Linked DNA regions of Homo sapiens: region 2 is linked to region 1. Evidence: fine-mapped expression QTL. A gene starts in region 1. The other region holds a variant in brackets. All regions are shown on one strand. Distances are between the middles of the regions.

Region 1 (2,926 bases):
TATTAACGCTCTTACATGACACACACACCAATTTATCTCAGAAAATCAAAGAAATATGTTCACATACGTATGAAATTTTTTACATATACAACTTGCCATCTCTACATACACAAAATTTTGCTACTGAGGATGAAGAGATACAGAGATACACATGTATTTATCCACATATACAATGTATTCTAGCTTGAAGTTTATTTTCAGATTACAGTATCTTAAATTTAATGCACTGACAGTTCAAATGATTCAGATTTATTTCATTACATTAAATAAAATTTGTCAATTTAGCACACCGAAACTAATTATTATACGCCCATGGCTTTGAAGCAACTTCCAGCATGGGTCTAACAATCCCTCAAAGTCACAATTCCATGTCATTAGCAGTGCATTTCCTTGTTTAAAAACAATATATTAAACGAAGAAATTTTCAGAATGGAGGGCAACTTTTAGTATTTTATCATTGTTTCTACAGAACTTTTCAGATTGTTACTAGCTCTGCCAAAGATAGTCTTTCTTTTAAAACTCTTCAAATACAGGGCAGGAGGTATCGTTAACATGGCAACAATAACGACTTCCCCAAATTCAAAACAAGGATCACCATCAAAACAAAACAATCAGGTGGAGTACATGGATATTGATCACTATTTCTGACAACCTGTTTTTTCCCATATGAAGGATTTGCTACTGCATTAAAACATTAAAATCTATGCCTATGTGCAACTTTCTATCTGAATATTTAAAATCCAGGCAAATTCCAATTCATATCTTGTGACATTAGCTAAATATTACTTAGCATGTTGAGCTGCATTTAAAAGGCAGAGGAAAATACTGACAACTTCCAAAACATAAAGCCTTTTAAATCTTTCCCCAAATTATCTGTGAATAAACTACCTTCAGCAGCCGCTAGACTAGAGTAGATCAAAGTTTTCCCTATACTTGAGAATGTGATCCCCACTGAAAAGGAACAGAAACTGATCATCCCTGCCACTGGAGCCAGTCCCCGGAATCTCCCCAAATACGCCTGATCGCCAGATGAAGAAGGGACACTTCTCCGGGCAGCAAAGGCTAGAGGTATCTTACCTCTGCAGGCTAGAGGAGGGGTGGAGGAGGCGGGAGGACACTGGCACGTAAGGAAGGAAATTCCGTCTTCAGCAGGCACTGGTGGGACCCGAAACCTAGGTCCCCGAAAAGCCTCAGAACCCAGGGAGGTTCCCCGAGGGGGACGCCAAGCAGGGCCAAGACTCTCCGCGCCCGGCCCCGCCTCTCTTGCCGCCACCGGGGACCCGGGACCGCGGACAGAGACAGTTGAGGCTGAGCGAGACTCCGCGGTCCCAGCCAGGTCCTACAGGAGCTCACCTGAGAGTGTCGCCTCCGCCCTCGGCTACCACGGTGCATCCCGCGGAGCCTGGCGGAGGGTGCAGTGACGCCGCCCCGACCGGCCCCAGGGCTGCCCGGCCTGGCCTCCCCGCTCCGGGGACGCACCGGGTGCCCTCCTCGCACCGGCTCCGGGGATCCGCCGGTCCGCTGGGAAGGAAGACAAGGCGGAAAGGCTGCCTCCCCTCCCTCAGGGCAAGCCACCCCCCGAGCTGCGGCTCCCTGCAGTTCTCTCTGGCGCAGGTCTGGCCCCGCTCCCCGGCCCGGGAGTCACTTCGTCAGGGGCGGCCCAGTCGCCATTACAGCCCAACAACTGACACGGAGGAGGAGCGGCGCCAGCGGCAGCGGCTGTGGCGGCGGCGCGAGGCAGGGCGGGAGCAGTCGGGCCCAGGCAAACCTCGCGAGAACTGTCCCGAGACAGTGCCACAGGCATGCCAACCTTCGGTTAGGGCCATGTTGAGTGTGGCCGAAAGGTGGGAGCGAAATAAAACAAGGAGCAGAACCGCGAAGAAGCCATGTTTGGTGCGTCGAAGTTTAAACTCGTAGGACTTGGGAGGAGCCAAGGTATATCCGCAGAAGAGACCACCCCTGCCCTTTCGCTTTGACGCTCATTGGGCCTTTTGGCTGCGCATTTCACCCCGGGCTGAGAAAACAAGCTGGGGATTCGACAAGAATGAACTCAAAGTCTGGAAACGGCAGCTTCTGAGAGTTTACAATGTTTCACCAACTGTCGTCCAAATAAGTCGTCACCCCTGTCAGAGTAGTTGCAGCTCTGCCGTTACCCACTGCTGTCACTGTGGCCGTTTTATTCGCGAGGGTTACAGTTCTGTTTAGCATGCATCTAATGACTTAAGACTCCACGCAAGTAAAACGGAGTTTCCTCCCATTAAGTATTGGCTTTGCTTTAACAGTGCTTTGAGAGGCTCTCTGTGGCCAACATATCTTCTCATATCTTTGTCCTCGTTTCCCAATCTCCGCGTGGTGAAATCATCTATCAAGACTTGGCTTAAAGGACCTCTCTTCTGCAAATAATGCCATCTTCCGCTAGGTGCTCACTGCACACAGACTCGCCGCCCACCACTTCTGTCCACCTTCTGAACTCCGATAGTTATTTACCCAGAGACTGTTTCTCATCTTTAAGTGTCGTGAAGACTTTAAGATCTGTTTTATCTCTCTATACCCCAAAATGGCCTAGCACAGTAACTAGGACATTGTAGGTGCTCAATAAATGTTTGTCGAATATCAATGACAGCAGGAGGCAGTAAATGGTCCCTCTTTGTAGGGCCTACAGCTGTGCCTGAGTAGGATGTACAGAAGTCCTGCATACGTGTGAAGTGTCTCCAGGAAGCTGCACTGGAGGGGACAGGAAATGTGGGTAATCGTATGGTGCAAGTGGTAGCAAAAAAGACAACATAAGGAAAATGTTATTTAGGTTTTGCCCAGTCTTGCTGTTTAAAGCCCTGTGTTAGATGCTTTTCATGCGCTATTTTACTGAATGTAAACAACCACCTTATTAAATATACTCACTTTTTTAAAACGAAGAAACACGTACTGG
Region 2 (2,926 bases), 37 kb before region 1:
CTACTTAAAATTTCCACCGAGATAATTCAAAATTGCATCAAATGCAACATATTAAACATTGAACTGACAGTCCATCTCCATCTCTCAAGGTATGTAAAATTTAAGAGTACAAACATATACCTAGAACTACCAAGTATCATCATGAAACTTCTTGATTTGTGTTTAAAACACCAAAAAATGCTTACAAATGAAACAAAAAAACAGGCCCAGTGTTTATTACTTATTATAAGAGCATGAATGCACTGAAATCATTAGTAAAGTGTCCCTCAAATACAAAATTCTGTAAGTTTATCAGTTGAATATCTTAAGCTATGTTAACAAAAATGCAAAGCATTTTATATCATCTATGCTATCAAAATTCATACATCAATCTTGAACATCTAAGTTGCTGAAAGCCATTGGCAACAAAATAAAACAATAAATCAACTCACATTCTCAATAAGATAGGAATTTTATGTGACTAATTAATGCTACCCAAAAAAAAAGAAAAAAAGTAAGCAATATAAAGTTCACTATATAAAATAAATGATCTGAGATATTAAGACGAAACAAAAAAGCCACACTTCCAGAGATGGAATAATTTGTTTCTAGGAAACGTATTTATTACAATAAAGGTGGCTTGAGGCAACTATTACTATTTCTTCCCCCTCGAATATTTATCTGCAGAAGAGGCTACTGCAGTCAGTATTTCATGTTTGCACTATCTTTTGTAGCCATCTTTTGTGGAGAATGAAAAAGGTAGTAATATTAGAGTATTATACTATTTCACAACCAGAGTGCTATAAAAAACTCAGAAAACAACGTATACTCTTACTGTAAATATTACAGGCTAAACCTATTTGATACCTTTTTTTTTTCTCAATACTAACCTATAAGAAACCAAAGGTTCACGAAATTCCACACGATTATTTTTCTTCACATTACTCTCCAGGGTGGTGGCCCTGAGAGGACTACGAGATTTCTCTTTTCGTGATTTAGTGGATTTGGAGATTGGAGCATTAACCCAAGAATCATCCAGGTATCTACCATCTGAAGGAAAAGGAAATCTGTGAGAACATATAATATAAAATACAACTGCCTCTGAATTAGGCTGGTATCTTAAAAAAAAAATTAGGTATCTATTATTTCTAATAGTTGGATATTATATAAGTTATCTCTAGTATCTCTAGTTGGATATTATATAAGTACATGAAAAACATTCAGGTTAAATTGTTAAAGTAACTCCATTGATACAGAAATTGTATTCTGAGGAAACAATGCAAAATAAAATTCTACACATAAAATTTATTTTTTGTCATGGCTCTCACTCACTTAAGAGAGAAGTATCATATACAACCTAACAAACTCCCAGGTTAAAAAAAAATGTATATATATATATATATACACACACACACACACACACACACACACACACACACACACATATATATATA[TAC/C]ATATCACAGTTTAGGTAGAGAGTACTGACATGGAGGTTTTCACCCACCAATTAAGAAACCACAGAATGGCCTGGCATGGTGGCTCACGCCTGTAATCCCTGCACTTTGGGAGGCCAAGGCAGGCGGATCACGAGGTCAGGAGTTTGAGACCAGCCTGACCAACATGGTGAAACCCCATCTCTTCTAAAAATACAAAAATTAGAAAGGCCCGGTGGCGCGGCTACTCAGGAGAATCGCTTAAACCCAGGACGTAGAGGTTGCAGTGAGTAGAGATCATGCCACTGCACTTCAGCCTGGGCGACAGAGTGAGACTCTGTCTCAAAAAAAAAAAAAAAAAAAAGAAAAGAAAGAAACCACAGAATCAAAATACAAAAGGTAACCCAAGAAAAATTTGCATTGTATCAATTTATGACAGTCACCATATGAAAGAGATTCCATTTATGATTTTAAATCCCAAGAAAAATATACGTTAAGTCAACTAAATTTCATTTCCAAAGTGCTATATATCTGTGAATTAAAAAAAAAAATCAGACATATATAACCTCAAAATGAAACTCTCATCACTAAAAACAAATGAAAACTCATTGTCAAGGGTGATGCAATAGTGCTAAAGTCCCTGGTCAAAAGATGGTGAAAACACCATCTACGGTTACTGAACATGAGGCTGCTTCATAGCTACCAAATATCAAAGGAAAAAAATTAAATGCCAGTGTCTCTGACAAAAAAGCAAACAACACGAGACTGTAAGAAGAAATCAAACTGAAATAAAACTATTACATCAACAACTTATATTTAAGGTAGAGTGTGGTAGCTACACCTATAATCCCAGCACTTTAAAAGGAGTCCAAGATGAGAGGATTACTTAAGGCCAGGAGTTCAAGACAAGCTGGGGCAGCACAGAGAGACTTCGTCTCTACAAAAGATAAAAAAAGATTAGCCAGGTGTGGTGGCACACCCCTGTAGATCTAGCTGTCTGTTTTGTCAAAATTTATATTTAATATATGTATATATTTGGAAGTAACTTCATACATACCTTTTCTACTTATTTTTCGAGTAGCACTTGTAGAAGACTTCTTGGTATCCATGACAGAATCACACACAGCTGTACTTGTAGGGGCTACTTCTAATTTATTTTCAATGTGTCTCAGCTAAAGTTTAAACACCATCATAAGACATAAGTTAATTCTGTAAATAATCCAGCTACCATCAATTTACATGGTTATTTAAAAGTATATTGCCCAATACCTTTTTCCAAAGTAGAAAAAAACTCAGGAATCCTTTCTTATAATATTTGTTTTTCATCATTTTTTACTTTAGCTATAATAACATCTGGCACAATGCTCCCCAAATTTAGACAAGAAAATCAGTAAGATTCTGAAGAATATCAAAGAGTTTCCATTTGACATGTTGATCTATTTTTTAAATTGTTGAGTATTTTCAAAGTAGTAAATTATCTGACTTTTTTTTTTTTGAGACGGTCTCGGTCTGTC

Evidence for each region. PIP is the estimated chance that this variant, and not a neighbour inherited with it, causes the effect.
Region 2: its variant is fine-mapped to the expression of CEP350 in whole blood (INTERVAL, PIP above 0.99).

What each region holds. Positions count from the first base shown.
Region 1 is chr1:179,953,570-179,956,495 of GRCh38, reverse strand. It overlaps CEP350 (centrosomal protein 350), which reads right to left and starts at 1,686. Exons shown (of 38, transcript NM_014810.5): 1 at 1,354-1,686. RefSeq lists a silencer at 1,252-1,701 and an enhancer at 1,489-1,990.
Region 2 is chr1:179,990,165-179,993,090 of GRCh38, reverse strand. It overlaps CEP350 (centrosomal protein 350), which reads right to left. Exons shown (of 38, transcript NM_014810.5): 4 at 2,470-2,584; 5 at 870-1,029. Among named protein-coding and RNA genes, the nearest start is that of CEP350, 37 kb to the right of the region's middle. The variant TAC/C (reference allele first, on the strand shown) is at 1,434.